4 separate regions of the Homo sapiens genome follow, and all the other regions are linked to region 3. The links come from fine-mapping of genetic effects on gene expression. A gene starts in region 3. Each other region holds a variant in brackets. All regions are shown on one strand. Distances are between the middles of the regions.

Region 1 (7,640 bases), 130 kb before region 3:
AGGCAAGAGCAGACAAATGGAGTTATTAGAAAACATGTATTAAAACAAAACAAGGGGAGGGATAAGGACAGCTCAAGAATTCTGAGGCCTTTTACCAGTTTGCACAGGGAGAGGTAGGCCAAAACCCCAACTGGTTAAAAAAACTCTACTCTTTTGCTGGCATGTCAGGCTTCTGGGTTCCCTTCCCCTGAGCCCAATCCTAAGCCAACCAGTTTAAGGCTTGGGAAATAAACTCTTTCAAGTTTGGAGGATGCATCTGAGGGGAGTGTCCCATAGTACGGAGATGCAATTACCTATCTGTGAAGAGAGGACAGAGGAGGAGAAAGAAAAAAGTAGCACCTTTTAAAGGAGTCCCAGGGGGTCAGGATGCATTTGAAAGGGATACAGAGTGAAGATGAATGACCACCCATCTAGAAAGAGGGGAGCAGGCATCCCTGGTTCCCGTTTCTTCCTAGCAAATAACCAGGGTACATGAAGGAGAGGGAAGTGTGTCTACTTTCCCTCTTCCATACTTGCATCTGAGCGATTTTGGCAGGTCCCACCATGAGTGCCAAAGCACCTTGCACCCATGAAGCAGGGAGGGCCTAGAGAATAGGAATTATCTCCTCTTACCCATGTATGCCTTATCTCCCCTGCTGTCAGTAGCCTTGGAGTTTCCTAGATATCATTTATGTCATGGACACTAACGTGACCTTTATCCATGAAACAGGAAGCTTGGGGTTGGCTTAATCGGCAGGAATCAGCCACTCTCAGTTTTGCTGTGCCTTTTAACCTCTGTTGTCATTTGCCCCTGAATCCCCTAGATCCAATTTTCCTGCCTAGGGCTTTGACCCAAAGCTTGGAATTGAGTTTGGGACAAAAATGTGTCTCAGGGAGTTACATGGACTCCTTATCATAAGCTGAATTTTAAGGTGAGAGGAGAGGAAAGAATGTCTTGTGACACACCCAGATAACTGGTAGCTATAGTTATGCTTACTAAGATTTGGGTGCATGATGCTTGGCTTTGGTTAGCTGCCTTGGTCTTACTTTCCCAAAAAGGAAACCTCCGAGTCATGGGCATCCTATTTATTCCCATCACCTCAGAGGATTTGCAGGATAATTGCTTAGAACTAGAATATCGATCCAGATTTTTACATTACTCATCCCTTTTGTTCTTTTTGACCTGGAGCCAGAAATTGCTGGTTGGTTCACAGAAGCAAGCAGGGTTAGTCTAAAATATAGGGGAAAACTTAAAAACAACTAATGACTTGAGAATTTAACGACAAATGTGTAAGTTTTGAAACATGATTTCTCTCTCTCCCATCTTCATTTTTGTTAAAAAATCATCACAGGACTGAATGGTTTGCAAAATAGATTTTAGTCTTATACTTGGCCTGATTATTTGCATAAAGTGCAGCAAGAATAATTATTTCTGTGTAGGCCTTTTGGATTGGTTTTGATGGAAGTCTGTTCCACAAGGAATCTCAGATAAGACCTTTTAAAGCCAAGCCCAACCATGGGTTTGTATCCTCAAATACCTGTGAGGTGGGTGGCCCTCTTCTCTTATGGTCCCAAGATAAAGTTGGAGCTCCTGAACCTGTTAGAAAGTGGCATTAGTGACTTTTTTTTTTTGAGATGGAGTCTAGCTCTGTCACCTAGGTTGGGGTGCAGTAGCGTGATCTTGGCTCACTGCAAGCTCCACCTCCCAGGCTCAAGCGATTCTCCTGCCTCAGCCTCCCGAGTAGCTGGGATTATAAGCACATGCCACCACACCCAGCTAATTTTTGTATTTTTAATAGAGACAGGGTTTCACTGTGTTGGCCAGGCTGGTCTGGAACCACTGACCTCATGGTCCACCCATCTCGGCTTCCCAAAGTGCTGGGATTACAAGTGTGAGCCACTGCACCCAGCCAGAGAGTGACATTCTTTACTGACCACAGGTCAGGAACCCTGTACAAGGACTGCGTAGACGAAGGTATGAGCCTTTTATTGGCTCTGCAAGTAGAGATTTACTCCTTAAAGGGAAGCATACCCTTCCAGTCAAAGCCTAGGTAAAATAACCACTTTCTCCAATTGTGTCCTGTTGCAAAAGAAAAATGGATTTTTATTGCACTAATGCAAACAACTATATTTCCATAAGAATACTCATAGATAGGTTCTAAATTCTGGAGGAACCAGGCAGAGAGAAACAAACATGCTCCAAATTTTGATCATAGGAGTATACCTTGCTTACTCCTTAATTATTAAAGGCCATAAATAGTCAAAATAAGTTTCCTTGACTCTGAAAAACAAAATAAGGATCAGCAATATTCCAAGCAAAGTCAAAAAGTTTGCTTCAGCTTTCTGAGTTCAGTCCATTTAGTTCTTGCTTCACTTGATATTTATGAACATTTCAGCTATTCATGAGTCCTGTATGTTTTTTTATTCCAGTGTCACAATCTCCAAAGTTATCAGAAACCTGTGTTTGAGAGCATCTGTTAAAATTCTATAGCTCATTATAAACTATCTTTGAAAAGGATTAAAACAAGACAACAATTGTCTGTGGATAGCAAAATGTCCAGGGTAGTTACAGTTAGAAACATGATTGACAAAGAAGTTTGGTTTTCTCCACGGTTTTCAATAACTTAACATAACAACCTTAATTATGATTGATAGCATATACTTAGACATTAGAATTTTAGAAATTTTATACAGTTTTGGAACATATATTAGCATTATTCATCAAGATATAACCTAAAGAAGATTGAGCATCATTTTGGCAATCCCACGTACCTAAACCTGTCAAACAATCCTGTTTACCTCTCTTTTCTGGACACTTCAGGGGCCCTCTGAAGTATTCAAAAAGCCAGGTGCCAGTGAAGATAATTTTGATACTGAAGTTTGATTTTGGGAAGCCTTTTAAATATGTTTAAAGCACTTGATATTATTGAATAGAATTCCAGATTACCATAAACTATTTATTTTGCCAAAATGATGACTCAGAAATTTTAAAGAAGCAAAAACCTTTTATATCCCTTTACAAATTTTGCCAAAGAGCAGATTAGTGCCTTAGGAAAACCTTGTTATGCTTTTATTTCAGTGTTCAATTTACAGGAAAACCATATAATACCCTTTTTGGAATTTAGTTAATATGTTCACACAGAGAACCTTTTCTGCAAGATTAATTTCCACAATTATTCTACCACTTCTTTGAACCTTCAGCTTTTTCCTAATTTCACTCAATACAATCCTATAACCCTAGGCAAAGGTTTACATTTCCATGCCTTCTTATAACTGTTTACTAAAACACACATTTTACTGTTCTTACACATCTTGCATGTAAATCTATTTCTAGTAGTTTCAGTTAACTCCTATCAATTTTAACTTTAAGGTAAAGCTTGGTGAGTTGCTTTAATTGTGGGCTAAGTGTAGCCAAGGTTTGCCTTCTTAATTAAGGGTGTGGTTAGTTCCATATGTGCCCAGACCTTACCAATTGTGAAGCCGCATGTCAAATAGTTCTCAAAACCCAAAAAGCAGTCTGTAACCTTAAAACACTTAGCAAACCTTGCATCTGACCTGGATTTTACCAATAGTCTTTAGGGCTGTTTTTACTTCTTAAAGATTAAAGTCACGTGAAGTGAAAGGTACCACAGCTTTTAACTTGCCTTAAAAAAAGTATTTGATCCAAGTGCTTGTCTTTCTTTAGGCCGAATTAGTTAGAGATCTTTTCACAGACATCACACACAGTACATACATAGACAGGCAGAAGAAAATCCAGTTGCTGGGTGGGGTCCTTTAAGAGACAGAGTTAGGAAAACATGCAGACATTGAACCAGAGAGGGCTCATCCCCTAACACAGTATTGCTAAACAAAGCCTTGCCAAGTGGTTATGCCCCTAGGATGTAAAGCAAGATGGAGGCTTGCAGCACAAACCATACGGACATGAAAAGCACACAAGATTGGCCACAGCCCAAGACTAGCCCCACAAATCCTTTTTCAGAATTAAAGCTTTACAGAAAATATGAACAGTATTAGTTGAGGGCCTGGCCTAGTAAAGGGGGGTAAAAACTTTAAAGGTTAACTGCTGACAGGGTGGAGAAGAGGAAAGAAAAAAAAAAACAGTTTAAAAATGTCTGGGAAAGAACCTCTTACTCTTATGCAAGTTGTTCCTCCACCAGGGAGATGTGTTCAATTACTGTCCAATGGAGTAAAACCCTTTGGCTGGGGAAGGGGAAGGCTGTGGTGGCTTGTGGCTGGGAACCAGCCATCCAGCTGGTCAGGACCCTGGGACCATGCGTCCCAGCCCTGGCATGGGGCAGGGAGCATCGGGGAGCTGATGCTCACCCATCTATCCAGTAGAAAAAACGAAAAGGCCATGAAAAGACATGGGATTCATGGGGGTTGGGGACTTGGTTTCCCCCACCCTCAGAAGTCCAAGGATGAAAAGTCTTAGAAGCAACAGTGAGAGGTTTTTTTTTGTTTTTTTTTTCAAGGTTTTTTTTCTTTTATTATTATACTTTAAGTTTTAGGGTACATGTGCACATTATGCAGGTTAGTTACATATGTATACATGTGCCATGCTGGTGCGCTGCACCCACTAAACTCGTCGTCTAGCATTAGGTATATCTCCCAATGCTATCCCTCCCCCCTCCCCCCACCCCACAACAGTCCCCAGAGTGTGACGTTCCCCTTCCTGTGTCCACGTGATCTCATTGTTCAATTCCCACCTATGAGTGAGAATATGCGGTGTTTGGTTTTTTGTTCTTGCGAT[A/T]GTTTACTGAGAATGATGATTTCCAATTTCATCCATGTCCCTACAAAGGACATGAACTCATCATTTTTTATGGCTGCATAGTATTCCATGGTTTTGAGTCCCCATTTCACTCACTGCTTCTCAAGTCCCATGTTGGGTGCCAAAAATGTTGCAAGACTTTTCCTTAGTTCAGCTAAAATGGGGTTCTTGTCTGCCCACAGCCATCAAAATTTAGGCTCACAGATGGTTTAAAGGGTGAGTAAAGCAGGGTTTTATTGGGTTAAAACGGAAAAAAGAGGGAAACAGGAACTCTTGCAAGGCCAGGCAGTTTGAATCCCAGGTTCCACACAGGAAAAAGAGGGGCCAGGCTCCTCCCCACACAAATGGCATGAACTTCCCAAGGCTTCACCCCAGTGAGCAGGCTGGTCCAGGGACCCCCTCCCACCTGGCTGTCTCATTAATGCCATTTAATTTGAAGGATCTGGAAGAACAGAGGAAAAAAGACAAAAGTGAAAGGAAATTGAAATAACTAGATCATCTATGAGAGCAGAGGCTCTTCAAGTATGGTTTTGGGACCAGCAGCATCTGCATCTGCATCACCTGGAAACTTGTTAGAAATATAGATACTCAGCCCCACCCGAGACCTACTAAATCTGAAATTCCAGGAGTGGGGACCAGCAGTTTTGTGTTTTAACGAGCCCACTAGAGGATCCTGATGATCACTAACATTTGAGAACTACTTTACTGGAGCCCAAGGCTGACTGCTCTATTGTAGCCACTGGAAAATCAGAAACATTCAATGATTTCTGGTGTATTATTTATAATATACCTCTTCCTCCAAATATTTAAGTTAAATTACAATAAAAAACATGTTTATAATAATGCTGTTGAAATAGAAATAAAAATCCAAAGCCCTGAAATGAGGAAATTAGCACATTCAGCTCAAAGACACAATGCTTATTGTGATGACTCCTTAATCAGAACAACCTGACAAGGTGATGGAGGAAGTATGATGGGTTTAAATTTTAACAGGATTAATTTCTAAAATAGATTTTTATCACCTGAGACCTTTAACAGAGGACAGTATGTGGCACAATATGCAAGGTCGTCATAGATTTATAGCAAATGCAAAATACATTGGGTTTCATTGGAAGGTTGATGCCACACATACAAAAGCTGGCAATTAATTTATGATTGATCACGGTTCTGGTAGCGAAATTCAACCATAGTCTTCTTTTATAATACAATTTATAAGCATAATAACAAACTACCTCTTATAAAGTACCTTTTATGTACCAGGCACTACACAAGATGATTTACATATATAATCTCATTAAGTTCTCACAATCATCTATGAAGTAGAAATTATCATTTTACCATGTCAAAGATGAGGAAATTGAGAGTCAAAATGAATAAAGAAGTGTTTTGTTAAGAACTGTTAACCTATGAGAAGAAAACAAAAAGCCTCTTCACTCTTTGGAGAATATTATCTACCCTCCCACATTAATTTGCACACTAAATTGCTCATAACTTCCCTGACTTTTGCCTCAATAATGTTACAATTGTTTAAATAAATTAAATAAATAATATTTCTGCTCTTAAGTACGAGTCTCTTAATGAATCTGTTTATCAGACTGAAGTTTAAAAAATTTTACCAGAAATTTTCCAAAAAGAAAATTGGTATGCAATATAAATAAAAATAATCTTAAAATCAATGAGCCAAGTAAATAGTAGTATAAGAACTTCTCTGAGTTTGCAAACTTCTAAGTATGAATCAAAAGAACATTTATCAATATGAACTACATCAATAGACACTAAAAGGCAATGAAGTATGACAATCAAAAGCATGGAGTCTACAGCCAGCCCGCCTAGACTGAAATTCTAGCTCTGCCATTTACCATATATGGGTTACCTCTGGCAAGTTACTGTACCTTAATATGCCTCAATTTCCTCATCTGTGAAATGGAGTAATAGGAGTATCTACTCATGTGGCTATTATAAAGAATAAGTACATGTGCAAAAAAGTAAATAGTACAGGGTCTGGCTCAGAATAAACTGTAAATAAATATGGAGTATTATTATTGGCCCCAGACCAAGTTACTAAAGACAGAGGGCAGAAAGGGGAATCCTTTGCAAAGCTGACCTGGAGAGTTCCCTCTTGTTATTGATTATAAAGGTGCTAAAATTAGGTTTTATAAGCAACCCCAGATAACCAGTCTCATTACTTTGTAGTTGTCCACATTCTGTATCTCCAGCTCTACGCAGAGTAACAGCATAAATTTTAGGACAGTAAGCAGAGAAAGCTTTCCCTCCATGAGCTTTTTCAGAATAGTTTTTCAACCGTGAGTTCTGAGAACACATGTTCAGTCTCTGGCTCCTTGCCTAACACCGGACCTCTTCTCTTCCTGGTCATGTTGCTTCAGTCTGGTCCATTTCTGAGCTAAAATTTTCATCTTATTTAAGACACTCTAAATCTCCACTTTGATTGCCATTGTTGGCAGCCCAGGCAGCCATTAGCACTGTTAACAAAAAGTTGTTCTTTGCTGAACATGGTTGACCCCCAAGGCAATAAGAAAGCTATCACTGTTAACTGATCTGGTTTCTATCTAGTGAAGCTGTTAATTAATTTAAGTCCTAGAGGATATATTTTGCAACAGAAAGGTAAAAATAATGCCTTTCTTAAAAGAAAACAACAACAACAACAACAACAAACACATAAAGCAGACTTTCCCTATCTTTTCCTCCCTCCTACAATTCTAACCTCCCAATCCTTTCACCTCCCTGAGGAAGGCCAATTTAATTTGAAAGTGTCTGGTTTTCCTAATGTCCTCTCATCAATTGATCCTCTTATCTTAGAATTAACTGTTTACTTTCTTAGTTGTAAATTTTGGTTCCAGCTCTTGACTTTTAATTACTCAGACCTTCACTGAGT
Region 2 (7,640 bases), 46 kb after region 3:
GTGAACAGGGCCTCATAATTTTCAAAGAAGAAACGTTATCACCTGTAACTGAAATACCACACAAATAACATTTTTAAATGATCCAAAAGCACCGTCAAGGAAGTATACTTTTAAAGAAGCATGATATGTTACATGCTTGCTAACAAGAATAAATATCTTTTGGAAACACTTTAAAACTGAAATAGCTAGATGTGTTTTTGTTTTGTTTTATTTTGTTTTTGGTTTTTGTTTTGTTTTGTTTTGTTTTGAGACGGAGTTTCGCTCTTCTTGCCTAGGCTGAAGTGCAATGGCGCAATCTCGGCTCACTGCAATCTGCGCCTCCTGGGTTCAAGCGATTCTCCTGCCTCTCAGCCTCCCAAGTAGCTGGGATTACACGTGTGCACCAACACTTCCAGCTAATTTTGTATTTTTAGTAGAGACGGAGTTTCACCATGTTTGTCAGGCTGGTCTTGAACTCCTGACCTCAAGTGATCCACCCACCTCAGCCTCCCAAAGTGGTGGGATTGCAGGCATGAGCCACTGCACACAGCCAGATGTCCTCTTTTGTTACAATAGTTGCTAATGCTTCAAACCTTAAATTAAATTAGAACCAAGTTAATGGCAAAGTGCTGTCTGATAATTTTAAAAAATGACAAAGCTGGTATTATAAATTAAATAATATCTAACTTTGTAACTCAAGAACCTTTCAATATTTCGTCCCTAGAAATGATATTCCAGCTCTTGCTATTAAGCCAAGTTCTTGCTTTCAGTGCATGTATAGCTTACCACTAGAAACACCTATAGCTTTTCAAATAAAATATTTAAAAATTTATGTCATGAATATCATGAAAATGTTTCCTTATAACGCAGAATGTTGTTTTCAGCTTCAATGTATATTCAATTTCTATTTTAAAATATTATCAAGATAGGATTTACATAATAGAAACACTTCACTATCTAGAAAACAGCTTGAGCTATAGTTGTCCAATAAATCATTGCCAATTAACAATTAACCTAGGACTATTTTAAAAGGTATGCGAAAACATTTTATGACTAGCATACTAATTATATTTATACACAAATAGCTCCAAGTACCTGTAAGATATATATGAATATATTGCAAATATATTTATATGAATGTGTATATGTTTTACAGGTACTTGGCCTATGTAGGCACAGCCCTTATAATCTTTGCATTGCTGACTTCCTTAACAACCTCCATCCTCTCTTTTTTCTGGTACAGATAAAATACAAGTAAACTTCCACTCAAACCCTGTCTAAATGATCTCAATTAGTAGAGCCTGAATTCGTGGTGATTTGCTATACACACTTAGCCACTTCAATAATAATCTTAAGTAAATGGATTTTGAGTAATATTGCTAAATGAGATTTTAAGCATGACTAAGTATGACATTTGTGGAAGGGGCTTTATTTCCCAGTTCCCTTGGAAACAAAAGGAGTGAGCTGGGTTTAGTAAGGTAATGGCTAACATTTGATAATAACCTGCGATTGTGTAGCACTTTATCCCATCAACAGGAAGCACTCTGAGACTCACTATAACTCTGGAAGGAGCAAGTCACTCCGCCATTTGTCATTTTCTCTCAATTCCGGGTCCTCATCCTGTTCTAAGGCTCTCTCGGGTTGCGGATTGTCATCAGTTCCACATGTCGCCTAAGCATTTCCAGGAGTTCAGCAACTCAAACCTTTCAAGTTTAAGATCAAGATGTTCCCAAGTCAATAGCAGGCTCTGAATGCCAAGTATTCAGGTCAGAAAAGAAAAAGTGATCCAAGTCTTTGAGCACAGGATAATAAACTACTATATACTCAGTTCTTGCTTCAAATTTAAAGTGCTTGAGCTCTGAGTCACAAGGTCCCTGGTACATTTATTACAGGGTCTGGAGCAGAATGAAATTGGAAATGAGTGACTGTTATATGGTGGCATAATGTAAAGCTGGATGTGATCCTTGGAGTGTTTGAGCTAAGTATCACACTTCTAGTGCTGGGAGATGGAGCTGGAAGCCCATGGTGCTCACAGGGACTTCGGTGAAACTCACATGGCATCAACAATGTTCAATGGCTGCTAGGATTTTTGAAATACCCCAGAGAAACAATAAATAAATTCCATTAGGAAGAATCAAAAGAAAATCTAATACAAAAGAAAAAAAAAGGCCATTACGTGTTGAGATTTTTTTCCCTGATGAACTCTACCTTTCTGGTCATTGCAAGGTCCATATTAAAACCTTGTCTACTGGTTGGTTGCTTATATTTTCAGTGGGCTTCACTCCTGAGGAGGTTCTTCCACTATACTTTGCTCAGGGGAAAAGATATGGCTTTGGCGAGGCAGGTGTGAGAATTAAACAAGAAGGTCATGCTGTTCTCAGAGAGGAAGAGCTGTTTCACCACAGCCTGTCACCACACCAGCTGAAATGGCAAAAAGAATTCTTCTCACACAGCGATGTTCTCAGAACCCCCATCAATCATTTGTTTATGTTTCTTTCAACATATCTCACCCATCACCTGTTTTAGAACATATAATTTTAGGGGTTAACTAGGTGGGTTTTATTTTTTCGGAATAAAAGAACTAGCTATCTCTATCAAAGTTACATAGTTTTCATTTAAGTGACTTGGAGGAGTAAAATCATGCTGAGAAACATTGGCTTTCAAAAGGATCAGTTACACGAAACTCAATAACATTAAATGACAATCTGTCAGACTTCTGATGCTTTTGTTTTTCCTTTGAGTCATAAGCATTTCTAGGATTTAAAACTTTACCGCTTCATTCAATAGGATCTTAATTTAAAAGAACAATCAATAATCTCCAGGAAAGCAAGTCTGTTGACCAGTTTGGGAATTGGAAAATATGAGGTTCTTCATTTCTGTACTCAAAATAGATATGCATGGTCGGGAGTGGTGGCTCAAGCCTATAATCCCAGCACTGTGGGAGGCCGAGGTGGGCAAATCACCTGAGGTGAGGGATTCGAGACTAGCCTGGCCAACGTGGTAAAACCCCATCTCTCCTAAAAATACAAAAAATTAGCTGGGTATAGTGACAGGTGACTGTAATCCCAGTTACTCGGAGGCTGAGACAGGAGAATCATTTGAACCTGGGAGATGGAGATTGCAGTGAGCCGAGATGGCACCACTGCACTCCAGCCTGGGTGACACAGCGAGACTCCATATCAAAAACATAATAAATAAAAACAATAACAAAACAGATATGCATAAATCCAAAAAAGGTATACTACTCAGAGAAGGTTAATAGAATTTCATGAAGCAGAGGTAGAAGGGCCCCCACACACCATCTGTGAATACATCTGGTAAATTCTATCTCTCCACTTGATTAAACTTCAACATAGACTGCAT[C/CT]TGCAGGTAGTTTAGTGAGAATGGAAGTGTTACCTACTTGTACTCTCATGGCTCAGTGAGACAATCAACTTTGGCCAAGAAAATTAAAGAGCCAACACAATTATCTGCCTCCAAATACAGAGAGGGATTTTCCTTGCATTGTCTTGATAGGCTGTCTATGTCCATGAAATTGACTACGTCACTCCCCGACACAGTGCCACAGAAAGGGCTCCAACTGTCCTGACTTCAGAGGCTGAATGAGATTCTGGGAGGGGAATTTGGGTGCCTGTTCTTTCCCTCCCTCTCTACCCTCTTTGATCTCTTAACAACTGTGGGTTGTTAGTTTGGTTTGAAAGCCAATGGTTTTGCTTGCAATTATTCTAGTTCACTGCTCTGTCCCCATGGCCTAGAAAAAAAGCATGTATCTCAATAAATATTTATTGATGGGATGTATTTACACCTGCAAGCCATGATGTATGCCAAGTCAATCTGCAGCTACTTGGAGAACACCCAGCTCTGCCTTTGAAAAGCTTGATTACGGTATGAAATGTGACTCCATGCCTGCTGTCAAACCATACAGAACAAGTACATGGTCCTCCAAAGTGCCATCTGTGCCTGGGAAGATCCTATCACAGTTTAAATCACTGTGAAAACCAGCCCCACAGACCAGCAGAAAGAATTCTGCCTCAGTCTACAGTTTAGTTTGCATAGCTTCCACATTCTGGGTTTCTCATTTGCACTGTGAATAGAATCCAAGTATGATGTGCACAGCAGCAGAGAGTCAGAGTCTCTGGCCATTCTTGCATGGGTTTGCCTTTGATCAAGTTAGAAATCCAAATTCAGTATTGTTATGGGTGGTTTGTTCTGACAAACTCTCATTCTCAGAATGTTTGCATACATCATTCTTGTTTCATAAAAAGTTGCTAATTTCATTCTCTTTTCTTTGGCTTGTTTAATTTTCTATCTGAGGACCAGACCCAACAGGTGAGGTTTTCCTGAGGGATGTTTTGGCAACTTTTTATTGTGTTTTGCCTTCTGAACTAAGGGCTTATTTTTTAAATTGTAAACGGAGTAAGCTTTAAAATCTGTAAGTTAAATAAACAAAAAATATATCCAGAAGAGTGTTAGCAAATGATTTCTTTAAATGTCTCTTCTCTTTTCCTCCCACTCCTACTAGAAGGAGTAGAGCTAAATAATGCATAATTCGTGACTGTGCCAGAAGCCATAAAGGAGAATGAGAATTGGAGTGCAGTGACCCTTGACCATTAGGTTATTAGCAGATTTTGTTTCCAGAGGGTGAAAGGGCCTTGGTGGAACCTTGCTCATGGGCCCAGAACCCAAACCGCTAGAAGAGAAGCAACTAAATGTGACCAAATACACTATGAAGTATGGGTTATCTGAAATTGGATAGCTGTGCCCTGTGCCCCCATTTGACAGGAAGCAAAGTATCACTGGAGAAGACTAAGCTGATAGCTGCAACCTGGTCCTTGCTCAGAATCACATGCTCACTCTATAGCCTCAGTTAAGCTGAGGCATGAGTCATACCCAGAATCAAAGACAAGAATCTTTCTAGAGCAAAAGCCTTGAAACCCATCATCCCCAGGAAATAGGGGACCTCTCCTTAGCCACAGTCTACAAGGCACAGGCTGCAAAAATATATGGATTTTTTTCTATACATTTCTTCACAATTTCTTCTGGTTTTCTACATAAGTCTACATATTTCTTCATAACACTTGGTATCTTTGGCCTAACCAACCTCTATATGAGCAGAGATAATAAATCCAATACAAAATCAAACTTGTGCAATTGTGCAATTAAGTAAAAAAACAAAAACAAAAACAAAACTAGTTTCTGGTAATACGGGGATACACCATCCTCAAGAAAAAGTTGAGCATCTCAACAAGTTACTTAATAACTACTATAATGCCTATGTAGCAGCACTGGTTTTCACATGTTTTAAATTAATACATATCCGAATCTCAACTTCCAAGCGTATGAAATAAAACCTAAACAGTGAATTGATACAAAATATGGCAAGTGTGTTCAATCCCTAAATCCAGAGCCAATTAAGTATATAAGATCTTAAAGAAGACTATTAACCCAATCCTGTCTGCAAACTGGGGGATGAGTGCAGCTAAGGACAGAGTCAAAAGGAGGTATTTCACCCAGCAGCAAGGTGGGTGGGCATTGTCTCCAGCACCATAACCAGAGGCTGGTCACTGTGCTTTTATCTCTGGCCCTAGATACAGAAGACACAGAAGGAGAGCTGTAGTTTTCTTATCTATTTTCCAGCCTCTGGGCTATCTTTGCTTCTAGTAGCCTTTCATGGGCAGAGTCCTACACATCAACGATATGAAGCCAAAGCTTAGTGCTGGGAGGAGGAGGTGTTAAGCCATGAAGCATCAAGATGGAAAACCTGCTTTGGAATATTATTGAAATCCTAGTCCGTGTCACACCCAACCTCCTTGTGCTGGTGGGAATTTTTGTTTGTTTGTTTGTTTGTTTGAGACAGAGTCTTGCTCTAGGCTGGAGTGCAGTGCAGTGGCATGATCTGAGCTCATTGCAGCCTCTGCCTCCCGGGTTCAAGCAATTCTCATGTCTCAGCCTCTGGAGTAGCTGAGATTACAGGCATGTGCCACCATGCCCAGCTAATTTTTTTATTTTTAGTAGAGACAGGGTTTTCACCATGTTGGACAGGCTGGCCTTGAACTCCTGACCTCAGGTGATCCACCCACCTCAGCCTCCCAAAGTACTGGGATTGCAGGCGTGAGCCACTGCACCCAGCCCTTGCTGGTGGGAATTTCAACACAATTGGCAGAAAGCAGAGAGGGGAGAGATAAACATTCCACCAGGTGAAGGCTTTCTGGAATAGCCTGCCCACACACAGCGCAAGATGTCCCAGATAAAATCTGAGCGCCCAGCCCAGTTTCAAAACTTCAGCCACAGGAGTACCATGAACAGGCGTGGATCTACTGCTCAAAGAAATAGCCTCCTCACTCACACCAGTCTTTAAAATGACTATTAAATAAATCATTTTGAATCTATTTGTCAAACTGCGGCTTCCCTAAACCCTAAGCAGTGAAACTCAAGATTTGCTTGTAGAAATTGAGGCTAACACGTGGTCTTCTTCTGGTCCCCAAATGAGACTGAAACACTTAAAGACTTACAATCAGTCATAAAAAGAGATATATTATCATCTCACCTAGAAAAGGATCATCTAAAAGGAGGTGAAGAAAAACTATGGGTGCATGGGTGAGGGTTTTAATTAAAATACTCAAGCTTTCATTAATGGCCAAGGGATAAAACCTAAAGTTGATTAGACACCTGCATGTATCAGCACAGCACTAGGAGCTTTACAGAGCTCATTTTATTTAAGTCCTATTTTAGAACAAAGGAAACAGTCTTAGGCAAGGCAAACTCACAGTTGGCTACTCAATGTCTTTTATTTCTGCCTGTTTTTTGGCCCCAGAAAATGCAATATTTTGACACAGAAAAAAACATTAGGATGAGTGTGAAATCAAATACGATTCTGGTTTTTGAGCTGACATTTAGTCATTTGGAGCCACATGGCTGTCCCAGGGCCTGGTCCCCAGGTCATGTGCTTAAAGCTTCCAGGCGGTTCTCATCATGATGATGAAGTACACATCAGTGTCAATGGATGCGCTCACACCTGCATAGTAGTTCATGAACTCCTCAGGGGTCACCTGCAGTGGAAAAGTTAGAAACAAAAACGAAACTTTGCTTCTCACTCTGTCAATGGGCGCCCACCTTGTGCACCTGTAAATAGAAGGGAAATAGAGGATTTCTTTGTGTATGTGATCATGGCTGAGGAACTGATCTAAAACAAAAGAACAAGTGAAGCTGAGGATGGTGTGAGAACAGCACCTAGGAAGAGAGAAAGAAAGTCTTGAAAGTTTCTAAGCCAACCTAAATGGAAAGTGACGCATAGGTTGTCATCTTTTGTCTAAGGGTGGGAGCCCGTCGGTTCAGGTAAGGGAGACTGAAACTCAGAGTAAGAAGGAAGTGCTCTGCAACTGTAGTTATTTCTGTCTTTCTGTGACACGTCAGAAACAACATGTCATGTCCTTGTGTCAGGGTAAGTGATGTTTTCCCTTTCCAAAAATGGAGTTCTCTCCTGTGGGTGAAGAAACAGATTTCTAGTTAAACGCTCCCGGGTTGCATGCTTTTCTAACACATAAATAACTCATTCAAGGCCCAGGGTGAATAAAAAGCTTACCCCTGCTTCATGCCTCCCACCCATCCTGGCTTCTCTCCACTCTACACCCATGACCATCTCTTTGAAATATTGACTAATGTGT
Region 3 (7,217 bases):
GCTCACTGCAGCCTCAACCTCCCAGGCTCAGGTGATCCTCCCACCTCAGCCTCCTGAGTAGCTTACAGGTGCACACCATCACACCTGATTAATTTTTTGTATTTTTGGTAGAGACAGGGTTTCACCATATTGCCCAGGCTGGGACTTTGCATATTAAGCTTGGGAAATTTTAGGCTAGCAGAGTTGTTCTTGGGGACTCCATTTGCACAGAGGACTGGGTTCTAAGAGAGCAGAGGAAGCTTCAGAGTAGAATTGAGGACTCTTGCCAGTTCTCCCAGTGGTCCAGATTTGGAAACGACCTGCAGGGTGTGGCCACCAACTGTGGTCCCTCAGGAACCACTCTGCAGGAATGGAGCTTACCCTGAGGCAAGTACTGTGTGCAGGGGCACGGGCCAGAACCCAGAATGGGGTTGCTTGATCCAGACTTTTCTCAGAAACACACTGGGGCACTGTGTCCGACAGTGGAGTGGGCAGCCGGAGCTGCTGTGAACTGTTTGTCCGCTGGGAAGGCCAGAGAGGGAGACACTGAGCTGCAGGGACACCACACTGGCTCCCGCTGCCCAAAGGGGCACTGTGACTCAGCCTTTGCCAGAAGGCATACCACTCTCACCACTCTTCCCAGGGTCAGCCCTCTTGTTCACTGTTTTATCAAAATGTGGGCATGTACTGAAATTGAAATACCACTCACTTTCTGGCAGAAATGTCGTCAGCAAAGAGTGAAATGTTGGTACTCAAAGTTTCCATTTTTATTGCATCCAGAGACAGAGGCTAAAATCTCATAAAGGTGAAAATAGTATGACATTTCAAACTCTGCCCAGAAAGAAGACAAATGGCAGCAAGACATGAGGCTGAAGACGTGGGGGAAGGAGGAAAGGGAAATGAAAGAAGAGCCACAACAAGGAAAATGTCATGCTCCTGGAAATGAAACTTCAAGATGCTGGGACTCCCCCTCAGAATCGTAGGGACTGACTCAGCACATGTTTATCAAATGCTAGAGACTATTCATTTAGGACCAGAGTGGCATTAGCTTTCCTACAGCCATCCTCACCTGCTTGACACCCTTGGATGTTGGGTTTTTTTGTTTGTTTGTTTGTTTGTTTGTTGTTTTTTTTTTCCACAGCTCTTGTGGTCCCCAGCCTCTCTCTTGAGCAGGGCTGGCTTTTTTTTTTTAATAAGATAGCTGGTGCCCAAGATTGTTTTCCACCTTAAGGATAAAACCTGTTAAGAAAGGTAAGTTGACAGTAGGTGGGGGCAGGTCATACAGATTTTATGACACATAGAATGTGTTTTCAGTATTTTTCAAACATCAGATTTTACCCAGGATATTACTGTTGCAACATTTACTGCCTGTTATTATTGCTGTTTCACTTATTGTCCTTCAATATATAGTCCCAAGGTGAGTGACTTTTAAATCATCCTCATTTAGGACAAATTGCTAAAGGCTTAAGGACTATTTTATAAGCTTCATCTAAAAACTGAGTCAGAGGAATGCTTTTGTCCTTGAAACAGTTTGTTTCCCAGGGTTCTCATGATACACTGGTATCTGTCCAACTAAATTCATAATTTCTGTAGAGAATAGAGTCAAAATTTCTGTTCCTAATAGATGGATCCAGATAGTAAACACTAGTAATAAGACAAGATGCTCAGCCTGAATTTTCCCAGGAAAACCTTTGTCTTTACTAATCAGAAAAAAAAAAAAAAAAGGAAGATCTGGGCTAGATTTTTATCCAGTTAACAAACAACAAACAACCAAATAATGGATACACCCCTCTAACATTTTAGGATCTCAATCTCGTTAAAAGATAAGTTCTCTTAACTTGCTAGGACTCTACCGGTTATATAGGAACACCACAGAACTTATTGCAATCTGAAGATAAAAGAAAGTCTTTTTTGTGTTTTGCCTGTTGGGCAAATAGCCTGAACAATTACAAAAAAGGAAGAAAAGGAGACTTGGCCAACTGGTGTCAGGAGTCTTAACAAGGTCAGTGTGTTCTGCTTGTGTATGAGAAAGAATCAAATGGCTTTTTTTTTTTTTTTTTTTTTTTTTGAGGCAGACTGTCACTCTGTCACCCAGGCTACAGTGGAGTGGTGCAATCTCAGTTCACTGCGCAATCTCGGTTCACTGCAGCCCTGAGTAGCCAAGACTACAGGCGGGCCCCACCACACCTGACTAAGTTTTCTATTTTCTGCAGAGACAGAGTCTCACTATGTTTACTAGGGCTGGTCTTGAACTCCTGAGCTCAAGTGATCTGCCCACCTCAGCTTCCCAAGGTGTTGGGATTACAGGCATGAGCCACTGCACCCAGCTGGCTTTCCTTTTTAATGATTCACTACATCATACAAACTCATCAAACTGAAGGAAGACAAAGTACAAAAGAGAGACGAGAAAATGTAGCCATGAAAGGAAGTGATGGGTGAAGAGGAGGAGAAGAAATATGGCCAAGTCAGTTGCCACGCCAAACTGCTTGCTTCTACCACAGTCCAATGCTTCCCTCCTGATTTCACATTTGGAGACTTGAGTGTCCCCAAATAGTGTTCCTCATCCTCTTTTCTTCTTTCTGTGCTTGTCTCACAAAAGTAATGACAAAGTAATATAGTAAATGTTTGTTACCTGGGGGATAGGGTGAACTAGGTGGTTCTTCCTCAGCTTTTCTAAGTCTCCAAAGGACTAACAAGACCTGAGTGAGGAAAGAGAGAAGGCACTGTTGTTCCCCCACAATCTCTAGAAGGACTGGTGACGCATGTCATTTTTCTTTGAGCTCCCCACACTTTAGGCTTCTCTCTGAGGTCTTTTCAGCATCTCCTGCCCCACCCAAGAGTAAGCACCCCTGTGGAAATCCCCAGAACAAACCAGCACATGCTGTACCAAAATATTGTGTCTTGGCTTTGTTCTTTTACATCTTCACAACTAAAGGAAAGAGATACAATCAAAATGATAGTCCACTTAAATGATAAACAAGAGAATTTAAAGAGACATAACCCAGTTACTCACCCATGAAGTGACAATCTGTTAGCAGTTTAGGAGATTTGCATTGGTAGATAGATATAATTTGGGATTTCTCCTTGAACATTAGCTTAATTCATGGGAATCTGTAATTATAGCTTTCTTGAAAGGGTATTTAGCTCAGTGTACAAAACATACCAATTTTTGTGAATCAGGCTTACAATTTTCTAACCAAGCTTTCAAAACAAGATTAGAAATGAGGGCATAAATTATTATCGATGCACAAAATTGTCACTCTTTATTTGGCTTGGAAGGGTTTTGAAATGCCCAGAGAAGGCCCTGACAAATGGAGAAGATGGAATATGTCCCCTTCAGTTGGATTCTTGCTCCGAAGTATTCCTTGAGCCTATACTCCAAAGTGTGGCATTATAACTGGTGCAGACGGAGTCTGTCTTAAAACTGAAAAGGAGGATCCAGAGACTGGTACAAATGTCCCACCTCCTTTTTTTGTTACTTCGTTATTGTCAAATAATTGTAATGATGGGACAAGCTAAATCATGAGTCTTTTAAAGTCTCTTCGATTTGCTTTACACCTGGGGGGTTGTTGCTTGTCTCTGCTAATTTTAGCCATTTCACAGGCCCATGGGAGCAATTCTACCTAATGACAGTGAATCCAACAGAAGTTCATAACTCACTGATCACTTAGTTTCTCTGCACTCCTCACCTTATAACTGCAGTCTTGTGGCATTTTTCCAAAAGAGAGCCACTGTGAATCAAGCATAGAGTTTTATGGCCTGAATCCAGGTTAGATTATTTTTTTCAAGAAAAAGAAAAAAAAATCTAACAGTTACCAAGAAGCAGTCAGGCTTTACAAATATCACCACTTTAACCATGAGGCCATATTAGGAAGGCTTTTGACTGGCATTCAGGTTTGGGGGAGTCTGAATTTTCTATGCCATGGTCTCAGATTTCTGCCCCATATACCTAGGCACTAATTTAGTTCATATGTACTATGTGTACCTGAAAAGTTGTGTGGCAATCAAATTTTCACAAATAGAATCCTGTTTTAAATACACTAAGAAAGTACCTACTTTATCCTTTAAACAAGAGGTCAGCAGACTTTTTCTACAAAGGGTCAGATAGTAAAGATTTTACACCTTTTGTACAATACAATCTCTATCTCATCTACTTAGCTCTGCCATTGTTGCATAAAAGCAGCTGTAGATGATACACAAATGGGTGAGGCTGTATTCCAATGAAACGTTATTTGCAAAAACAGGTGGTAGATTAAATTTGGTCCCAAGGCTTACTTGGGAAAAAAAAAGATCTTTTGAAAAAGAAAAAATAAATGAATAATTTTTTAAAAAATTGTTCCCTAGGTCATAGTTTGCCAGCCCCTGCCCTAAACAAATAATTCTTGAATGCCTACTGTGGTGTGTAAGATATGAGTAAATACCAGGGATACACAGAGAACAAAAGAGAAAAACTGCTATTCTTGTGAAACTTGGAAGTTGGAGGTAAGCTATTTAAAATAAACCCACAATAAAGTACTTCACATAGTGCAGACTGTTTCTTTAAATCAAAACTCACTCCAAACAACCAATTGATTCACTTTGTAAGTTTGAATTTTTGTCTTCAGATTCTTTTAAAGTGGGCCCTTAGTCAGGAGCGGTGGCTCATGCCTGTAGTCCTAGCACTTTGGGAGGCTGAGGCAGGCAGATCACTTGAGGTCAGGAGTTCGAGACAAGCCTGGCCAACATGGCGAAACCCCGTCTCCACTGAAAACACAAAAATTAGGCTGGCATAGTGGCATTTGCCTGTAGTCCTAGCTACTCAGGAGGCTGAGGCAGGAGAATTGCTTGAACCTGGGAGGTGGAAATTGCAGTGAGCCGAGATCATGCTATTGTACTCCAGCCTGGGCAACAAAGCAAGACTCTGTCTCAAAAAAATAAAAATTAAAAAAATAAAGTAGCCTCTAGCCTAAGATAGCTTGAGCCTAGGTGTGAATCTACTGCCTTACTCTGATGTAAGCACAGTAAGTGTGGGGGCTGCAGGGAATATCCAGGAGGAACAATAATTTCAGAGGCTCTGTCTCTTCATGTCCTTGACCTCTGCTTACAGCAGCAATACTTTTACTCAGACTTCCTGTTTCTGGAACTTGCCTTCTTTTTTGCTGTGTTTATACTTCCCTTGTCTGTGGTTAGATAAGTATAAAGCCCTAGATCTAAGCTTCTCTGTCTTCCTCCCTCCCTCCCTTCCTCTTACTCTCATTCATTTCATACACACTGGCTCACACATCTACTCTCTCTCTCTATCTCTCTCAGAATGACAATTCTAGGTACAACTTTTGGCATGGTTTTTTCTTTACTTCAAGTCGTTTCTGGAGAAAGTGGCTATGCTCAAAATGGTGAGTCATTTCTAAGTTTTCTTATGGATTTTGGATTATCTGTAGCATGGTTTCAGGTTATTCAGTTCCCTAACAGACCTGAGTCAGGCACTGGGTTTGAATGCAGTTTGAGAATTTCCCACATATTCAGTCATTTTTTTTAATGTTTAACCACCATGACAGGGGGCAGGGGATCAATACTATGGGTGGTTTATAAGACCTCAGTATTCTCAAGAAGGAATGCATTTCACTCCCAAGTGTAGATCTTAAATGTTGAATGATTACTCTGCTCTTACAAAAAGAATGCTCATGTAGATGCTATGACTGTACTTGTAGGAAAATGTCCAAAGTAATTTTACCTTGTCAGGAGATCAAACTGGATTCATTTTGTTTGACTTTTTAAGAAATCCTGAAAGCATAACTTTCAGGATAAGGTAATGTACAGAAGCAATAGCTTTGTCTTCAGTGACCAGTGCTATATCCTCAGCACCTAAATCAGTGGCTAGAATATAGTAGACATCCAATAACTTTTGAAAGTGTTTTCAAAATACTTTAGTTTTGAGAGATTTATGTGAGATTTTAAGTAAATAACTGACTAGAGAAAGATCTAAATGAGTTTACTCATTGAAATACACTGAATTGCCTCCACACCAACAAATTGGCCATATGTAATAATTCTTTTTGGGATCTAAAAAACTTAGTACCGAGAAGCCAACCCTGCCCATACATAAACACATTGTAATTATAACAAAACTAGGCAGAAGCTTCTAACAGCAGCAGGAGGCATGTGGGAATTTAGACCATCAACTTGCTCCTGCAAATTAAGCCCTTTCTCTTTAAGAGTTAAAAACTATTTGGCTATAGACAATATCAAACACATCAGCCTAATGACTCAGCTTATGCATTTTGAGTCATGTAATTACGAAGGATGGAAATCCCTAGAATTTTCTCATTAAGGGAATTGTCAGAGAGTTTGACATTTTTTACAGTATATGACTCACTTTATGGGGGATGATTATTATTCTATGCTAAACTTTGCCTTGGATTTCCACAAAGACTGATGGGAGGCAGGAAACATAAATCTTACTCTCTTTCATGTCATCTATACTCACTAGTTCACCCTGGTGATCATACTATTTTTAAAATATATAAGAATGCTAGTTGAAAGCTGGGTTTTCACTCCAACTTTTTAAGTTTCAGATTTTTTAGAAGATGTATAATTACCCTATTCACATGATTACGTCAAAATACTTCCCAGTTTGGGGTATAGGAATTCACATTCAGTTGCTGCTTGTTGAAAGTTGTCAATTTTCTGATCATCACAAGGATGATCAAGAGAAGAAAGGGATACTTTTTAAAAATCCAAATCATTTACACTATTAATCAACTAACTCCATTCAGTAGGAAGAAGACTTCTAGATGACACTGGCTTGCCTATGATACATATTCCACACAATTTAAATTTTTATGGATAAATATGTCTAGATACCTATTTAAATATGAATAATATTAATTATTGAGCATTTAAAGAATAATAGATTAACTCATTATTCAAAAGCTCTATGTAATTTCAAAACCATAGTAATTATAACACCGTCAATTGACATAAACTTTTTAAAGAGAAGCTCAAATGTTTCATGTATATTTTCAGAATTAGAATTCTTATTTTACCTTTTCATTACTTATTTCTCAGAAAATATTATACTCATAGCTAATCCCTATTAAATCCTTACTGTGTTCTAAGCTACCTCTTTGTAAATATCCATTCAGTGATTGCTCATAGCACGAGTTTACATATTAGAACACATGTCTTAGAGAAGTTGCCTACCTGACAGAGGACCACAGGTAGAGTATCCAGAATTTAAACGCACATCTGTCCAGCTCTAA
Region 4 (7,640 bases), 66 kb after region 3:
TCATCATCACTGGCCATCAGAGAAATGCAAATCAAAACCACAATGACATACCATCTCACACCAGTTAGAATGACGATCATTAAAAAGTCAGGAAACAACAGGTGCTGGAGAGAATGTGGAGAAATAGGAACACTTTTACACTGTTGGTGGGACTGTAAACTAGTTCAACCATTGTGGAAGTCAGTGTGGCAATTCCTCAGGGATCTAGAACTAGAAATATCACTTGACCCAGCCATCCCATTACTGGTTATATACCCAAAGGATTATAAATCATGCTGCTCTAAAGACACATACACACGTATGTTTATTGTGGCACTATTCACAATAGCAAAGACTTGGAACCAACCCAAATGTCCAACAATGATAGACTGGATTAAGAAAATGTGGCACATATACACCATGGAATACTATGCAGCCATAAAAAATGATGAGTTCATGTCCTTTGTAGGGACATGGATGAAGCTGGAAACCATCATTCTCAGCAAACTATTGCAAGGACAAAAAACCAAACACCGCATGTTCGCACTCATAGGTGGGAATTGAACAATGAGAACACATGGACACAGGAAGGGGAACATCACACACCGGTGCCTGTTGTGGGGTGAAGGGAGGGGGAAGTGATAGCATTAGAAGATATACCTAATGCTAAATGACCAGTTAATGGGTGCAGCACACCAACATGGCACATGTATACATATGTAACAAACCTGCGCGTTGTGCACGTGTATCCTAAAACTTAAAGTATAATAATAATAAAATTTTAAAAAAAAGCTTATCGTCATTAGAGAAATGCAAATCATGTCAGTTAGAATGGTGATCATTAAAAAGTCAGGAAACAGCAGATGCTGGAGAGGATGTGGAGAAATAGGAATGCTTTTACCCTGTTGGTAGAAGTGTGAATTAGTTCAACCATTGTGAAAGACAGAGTGGCATTTCCTCAAGGATGGAGAACCACAAATACCATTTGACCCCACAATCCCATTACCGGATATATACCTAAAGGATTATAGATCTTTCTACTGTAAAGACACTTGCACACATATGTTTATTGCAGCTCTATTCACAACAACAAAAACTTGGAACCAACTCAAATGTCCATCAATGATAGACTGGATAAAGAAAATGTGGCACACATACACCATGGAATATCAGGCTGCCATAAAAAAAGGATGAGTTCATGTCCTTTGCAGGGATATGGGTGAAGCTGGAAACCATAATTCTTAGCAAAGTAACACAGGAACAGAAAACTAAACATCGCATGATCTCACTCGTAAGTGGGAGTTCAACAATGAGATTACGTGGACACAAGGAGGGGAACATCACACAGTGGAACATGAACTTCAGGGGGTGGAGGGCTAGGGGAGGGATAACATTAGGAGAAATACCTAATGTAGATGACAGGATGATGGGTGCAGCAAACCACCATGGCACATGTATACCTATGTAACAAACCTGCACGTTCTGCCCATGTATCCCAGCACTTAAAGAATAATTTTTTTAAAAGATGGAAAGTTGGAGTAATCAGAATCTAAAGACTTTTAAATGTCCTTAAATGCTAAAAATTTGAACTTTATTAGCAAGTCATTTTTAAAGTCATTAAATGGTTGACTTGAAGTGACATTATCAAAATAATGAGAACTTTACCCATAAGAGAGCTAACAGAACTCTAGCAATAATGGGTTGAATGAATTGGAGGACTGAAAACTTAGGAGCAAAGGAACCAGCAAGAATACTATCATAAGAGTCCAGTGAAAAAAATGTTGAGTGTCTACACTTGAGCAATTGGGATGAAAATAAGAAAAATAAAGATTTCAAGATATTATAGAAATAAAGGAGTCAATATGGTGGGCTAATGAAGATAATTCTAAAGTTTTCAACCCAAAGACCTGGAAGAGTAGTAATACTGTTAAAACCGTAGGGGCTGCAGAAGAAGCTCTATTTGGAAAACAAAAAACAAAAAAAATGACTTTTGTTTTGTTTGGATTGGATACTAAGTCAACTATATAGAGATATTCACTGGTTAGCTAGTATCTTTCCTGATTAAAAAAAAAAATATATATATATATATATATAAAAATTGTGAAATTAGTTTGGATCTCAGGAACGGATAGCATTCCAAGAACGTGGCAAGGGGCCAAGGTACAGATGTGCTAACTCAGGAGTAGCCAAGTTGTCTGATAAATTAAGGATACTAGCAAAAGAATCTTGAGAATTTAGATACTAGAGAAGTATCTACATTTACAAGGCAATTGGAAATGACTAAGAAAGAACGTATACTGTTGAAAACCACAAGAATTTCATGTCAAAAAATGAAGGTGCCAAGGTTATAAATAACAAAGTCATCTTGATCTTGGTCAGGATAAAGACTCAGGGTGGAAAGATGGTGCCGGGAGTCAATGCTTCACAGAATGCTAAATGTTGTGCAGGGGGGATGATGGCAGAGCCTAACCTGAAGAGATGCCCTTCTAAGACAGGATTTATGGGAAAGAAATAAATGAACAAAGGGGTGTGTATGACCTGGGATTTGGAGTTAGACTGAAGGAGAGTGTTCAGTCTTCAACTGACCCTAAGGTAGGAGTGGAGGAGAGGGGCAGCTTCCACTTGAGTTAGGAGTTACTTAGAGAAGGCCAAGGCCAGTAAGTGAGGCAGATGGCACATTCTGCAAAAGGCTTAGGATGGAACGGTGTCCATTGACTGTAGACTGGTTCCCAGTGGAAAGGCTGGTAGAGACGCAGTGTGCAGTGGGTATGGGGTGAAGATGGCACAGGTAGCAGGAGGGATTCCACTGAGTGAACCAGAGAGTGGAAGAGAGGATTCCTCAAGGGTTTGCACTAAGGACAATGATGTGGACCCATGATGAATGGGATAGAGGTGGAAGTGACACAATATTGAGGGCATGGGTGCTGGTCTTCCCATTGGACTGGGGCAGCCTGGCCACCAGGGTCCATATCCCCACTGCCTGGCCTTCTGACAGAGCTGGGCTTAGTCTGAGACTTGGGACTGTTCAGAGTTTTCTCCCAGGCACTCAGTACCTTGC[T/C]GGAAGTGAAGCCTTCCGCATCTTCTGGGTCCAAGGCTAGATTTCCCTCCCATTGGCACCCTGTACTTCTCTAATAAACAACTTCTCACACCACTGAGATGCCATTTAGATCACTCATATTGTCCATAGTCTTAGTCCTCCATGGGGGCTTAAGAAGCCTTGTTCACCCACGGGTCCCTGAGATGTGTCCAATGCCTGGCCCATGGCAGGCTCTTGATGGAGTTTCTTATAATGCACAGGACCTGCCCTCAGGAGGCTCACAATCTCCTTTCCCTTTTGGTTTCTCAGTCCTTAAAACTATTCACACTCAGAGGACAGAGGGTGGGAGAACAGGAGCTACCCAGCTGAGAGAACCCCATTGGCAGTGAGCTATCAGTTATCTGACAAGCAATACCAGTGTCCCTGGAAGTGATGGAGAAATGATTGCCCGAGAGCAAAATTCCAAATTCTGCAATTAGGGCTAACTGGCTGTTCCTTCCTCCCTCTTCCACCCTGGCCTTTATTATCACAGCTGCAGAGAGAGTCCCTCTCATTGTCCTGGTAGGCATCTCCATGCCAGGGCACATGCTGCTTCTCCCTTTACCTCATATTTTCCCAGAGCTGCACTGTCTTGTAGCAGATATGAGTCTTGCCGAATCTGGGACTAAGATCCAAAAACTGTCACAAGGGACCTCATAGATCAACTCTTCTAAACTCTACATTTTACAAATAAGGAACTGAGCCCCTAGGAGGAGATGACTTCCCCAAGACCACGTGGCCAACATTAGCCTCACCTGGCAGAGTCATTCCTTCCCGCTCCATTCCCTGCCACTTGTAGCTGGGTCCTACCTGCCAAGTCCTTTGATCCCAGCAGAGCCCCTGGCCAGGCACTGCAGTCGGAGTCTTTCAATGGGGTCGGTGGCCGTGGTGAGCTTTTTCTTGGCCTGGATCGCCATCTCTCGGTCATGGCGCGCTGTCCCTGCCATCTGAGGGGAAGCCATAGCATGTTAGCAAAGTCCAGGCCTCGCCGCTGCCTCTGGCTGGGCAGAGTGACAGAAGCCTCACTGAGAAGGAAATTTACAGCCTTCTCTGTCAGGAAACCTCTCAGAATTTCCAATTTTTCTCTATGCCAACTGTGTGCCTGGCATATTTATAACTTACTTATCTAGTCCTGAGGACATCTGGTTTCTCCAGCCTAGACAATAATCTTAAATATATCACCATTTCCCAAGATGTTTTGATCTTTCTGAAGCCCTCTTCCATCCATAAAAGAAGTGCAATTTCTCTATACTCTCTTTTTTGAACCAACATTATATACCATATTATTTTATGTAGAATTTTCCATATTCCCTTGACCCTCACATTTAATGTTCTCCTCTTTGGTCTAAACATTGATTTTGTTGCTTCTGTCTTGAATGAGATTTTCAGCACTTGATCCTTAATGATTCTTACCAGTAATGGGTATGGTCTCCTTGATTCACAGGTTAGTATCCACTAACACCTAATGAGGTTCTTAGGATGGGTGCAGTGAAGTGCTGTCTCCTGAGTGGTCCCCAAGGGACGTACAAACTCTTGTAGCCACACTTGAGCTCTCAAAGCTTGCACAACAGTGGGAAGAGCACTTAGCTGGGGGCCTGGAGACCTGGGTTATAGTCCTGACTCTTCAATCCCCACCCCTCAACTCCCCCAACCCCTCACCCCCATCTGCCTGGTAACCTGCCTGTGAGTGAATCTCACAGCCTGTTTCCTCCTCTTTTAACTGGGAGGATTGGATAAGATGGTCTTTAAATTCCATCCCAGCTTCAAAAAACACTAATTCTCATAAGTCCACATATTCAGTAAATGGGGGATTCTGGAAGTTACCTGTGAGTCGTGAATGAAAAGAATGAGAGGCAAGAGGCTCGAAGGATGTGCAAAGGACAGCATGCAATGTGCAGAAAAAAAAAAAAAAACGGTATTAGAATGTGGTTCCACCCTGGCTTCGAGGCTCCCTCCCCAGTCAAATTCTGGCACTTCCCCTAAGTGCTACATTAGGACTGAATTATTTTCATCAAAGACAGCAACCTGCAGATTCACAACCTCGTCTATGCCAAGAGTGTTGTTCTCCTATACACCCTGAAAGGTCTCCCATAGAGGGTACTCCTTATTTGACTTTTGGGAAAGGGAATCTCATCAAGCCAATAACTGAGGCCAGAATAGACAATTCAGGGATGCATACACTTAACGTGGCCACTTTCTTGCAGCCTCCACCGAGCCAAGGTACAGGATCCCTCTTTCTTGCCCTGTATTCAGATTCCCAGTATGTGGATGAAGGTGGGAGCAATTCCTTTCAGTTCTCTTGAACCTCGGGTCAAGAAGGAGACCTGTCTACGTCCCAGCTCTTTACTCCACATTAGGAAAAACTTGCTCTGTCTAAAGCTACACAGTCTTCCTCTGCTTCCACTGGCACCTAAGCAGAGGTTCCCTGGAACTCCAGACGGTGGCACACCCTGCGCTTAGAGACTTCCATCTCCGTTCTTGCCAGGCACACACAAGGAGCATGTTCCAATTCTCATCCAACAGGGACACCTGCAGCCAAGACTGTGCCCTTCCTGGCAGCTTTAGCTTTCTAATAACTGGCGTTTGCTTATTACTATTTTGTTACCTGACCTCAAGCTGACAATTCCCAGAGCTCGTTCCCAGCTTCAGCACTAACTGTCCCCTTATTAACAGCCAGAATCCTGAGTCACAGACAAGACCACCAATTCACTCATCTAGCCATGTCCTGCTGTCTTACTCATCCTTGCCTGAGCCATTCTCTTGCCCTGACCATATTCTGCTAGTGGCATGCGCCCCATCCCCACCCCAACCCCTATGGAAGCAGGAACTGGTGTCAACAACATGCCCTTCTCATTCTCTAAACCCACCTCAGAGTCTTGATCCTTCCCAGGACCACCATCATCTTTCCTGACCCTTGACCTTGCTTCATGATACTTGCCCAATGGCTGTCCCCAGCCACTCACCTCCCATTCTCATTTCCCATGACATCTCCCCTACCTTGTCCACCTTATTCATTTTGCTCTGGTTTTTCCCTGCCATCCATGACAGTAAGTGAGAATGAAGAGAAACAGAGACTAAAAACCAGTCATGGAGAGAAAGTGAGATCCAGCTCCTGGATCTGGGACAGATCCCCAGTGGGACCCTCTTTGCACACCTTCAGAATAATATTAAAGGCATCAGTGGTGCCCCCACTAGGTAGTAAGCATGTGTCCAGTTCCCACAAAAACCCCTTGAGTTGAACTGAAAACAGGAACTCAAACAAATGCACATATACCCATGTTTATAGCAGCATTATTCACAACAGCCAAAAGGTAGAAACAAACCAAATGTCCACCTATGGATAAAGGGATAAGCAAATTGTGGTATAGCCATACAGTGAAACATTCTTCAGCCATAAAAAGGAACACAGTACTGATAGATACCACAATGTGGACAAACCTTGGCCATGTTATGCTAAGTACAAGAAGCCAGACACAAAATGTCACACATTGTACGATTTCATTTATGTGAAATATTCAGAATAGGCAAATTCATAGAGACAGAAAGCAAATTAATGGTTGCAAGGGGCTGGGGTGGGAGGGCCAGTGGGGAGTGACTGCTTAATGAATGTAAAGTTTCCTTCAGGGGTAATAAAAATGTTTTGGAACTTGACATAGACGGTGGTTTATCAACATTGTGAATGTAATATACACTTTAAAATTGCTAATTTATGTTATGTGTATTCATCTCAATAAAATAAAACCCATGCACAGATGTTACTAGCTAGATTTAGTCATTCCACAATTATACATACTTCAAAACATCATGTTATACAAAGTAAATACATACAACTTTATCTGTCAATTTAAAAAAAAAATTTAAAGTGTGCTGGGCACGTAGTCATCCTGGTAAATTAGCAAAGGTTAAAAAAGAAAAACAAGCCTATGAGCTAGTTACTACTATTATTGGTATTTCACAGATAAAGAAATTAGGATGCAGAGAAATCAGGTAACTTGCCCAAGTCGCACGGAAACATGACTCACAGTAATCCACATGCTGTTAGAACTGTATGACCCTTGAAGATTCTCTAGTGCAACCTCATTTTGCAAACTTGGAAACTAAGGCTTGGGTTGGCAAAGTGACTTGCTCAAAAGTCCTGGCCAAGACCAAAACAGACGGCTTCTGATTCCTAAGGGCTCTTTCTGCTTCATCATGTTTGTGGTTTGTGAAATAACATATAAGAATCTCAAAGCACAGTTTGATGGTGCTTTCTCATAGGAAAGTGGGATCGAGTCCAGGAAGGCAAGAAACTGCCAGCCCAGTACCTCAGGCTGTCCCACCTCTTGAGGCTGACCCTACCCAGCGATGATGTTGGCAGTTTATTTCTGGAGTCTAATAAATTCAAGGGGAAAAAAGTCCATTCTCTCCTGCTAGCCTACCGTGAAACTTGAAATGCCCATAGTAAGCATCCCTTTTAATCATTGAATCACCCAGTTCACCAACCACTAGCTAACTGTATTGTGTACTCTTTTCGAGGCACTATGCTGGAATAGAGTGTGGGAGTGTGAGGAATTACTCAGAGGAGCAAGCCCTTGAATAGCCTAGA

Direction of the effects. Alleles are on the strand shown, and positions count from the first base shown. SD is a standard deviation of normalised expression in the study named. Not every link is listed here.
With allele T in place of C in region 4, the expression in fibroblasts of the gene that starts at base 5,183 in region 3 is higher (small effect, 0.17 SD a copy in GTEx).

Evidence for each region.
Region 1: its variant is fine-mapped to the expression of IL7R in testis (GTEx, PIP 0.95).
Region 2: its variant is fine-mapped to the expression of IL7R in fibroblasts (GTEx, PIP 0.98).
Region 4: its variant is fine-mapped to the expression of IL7R in fibroblasts (GTEx, PIP 0.92).

What each region holds. Positions count from the first base shown.
Region 1 is chr5:35,718,029-35,725,668 of GRCh38, forward strand. All of the region lies in intron 20 of SPEF2 (sperm flagellar 2), which reads left to right. Among named protein-coding and RNA genes, the nearest start is that of SPEF2, 100 kb to the left of the region's middle. The variant A/T (reference allele first, on the strand shown) is at 4,730.
Region 2 is chr5:35,897,622-35,905,261 of GRCh38, forward strand. CAPSL (calcyphosine like) reads right to left here. Exons shown (of 5, transcript NM_001042625.2): 5 at 6,667-7,025. The coding sequence ends at 6,924. Among named protein-coding and RNA genes, the nearest start is that of CAPSL, 37 kb to the right of the region's middle. RefSeq lists an enhancer at 6,974-7,073. The variant C/CT (reference allele first, on the strand shown) is at 3,343.
Region 3 is chr5:35,851,709-35,858,925 of GRCh38, forward strand. It overlaps IL7R (interleukin 7 receptor), which reads left to right and starts at 5,183. Exons shown (of 8, transcript NM_002185.5): 1 at 5,183-5,351. The coding sequence starts at 5,270.
Region 4 is chr5:35,917,119-35,924,758 of GRCh38, forward strand. It overlaps CAPSL (calcyphosine like), which reads right to left. Exons shown (of 5, transcript NM_001042625.2): 2 at 3,866-4,002. The coding sequence starts at 4,002. Among named protein-coding and RNA genes, the nearest start is that of CAPSL, 18 kb to the right of the region's middle. The variant T/C (reference allele first, on the strand shown) is at 3,038.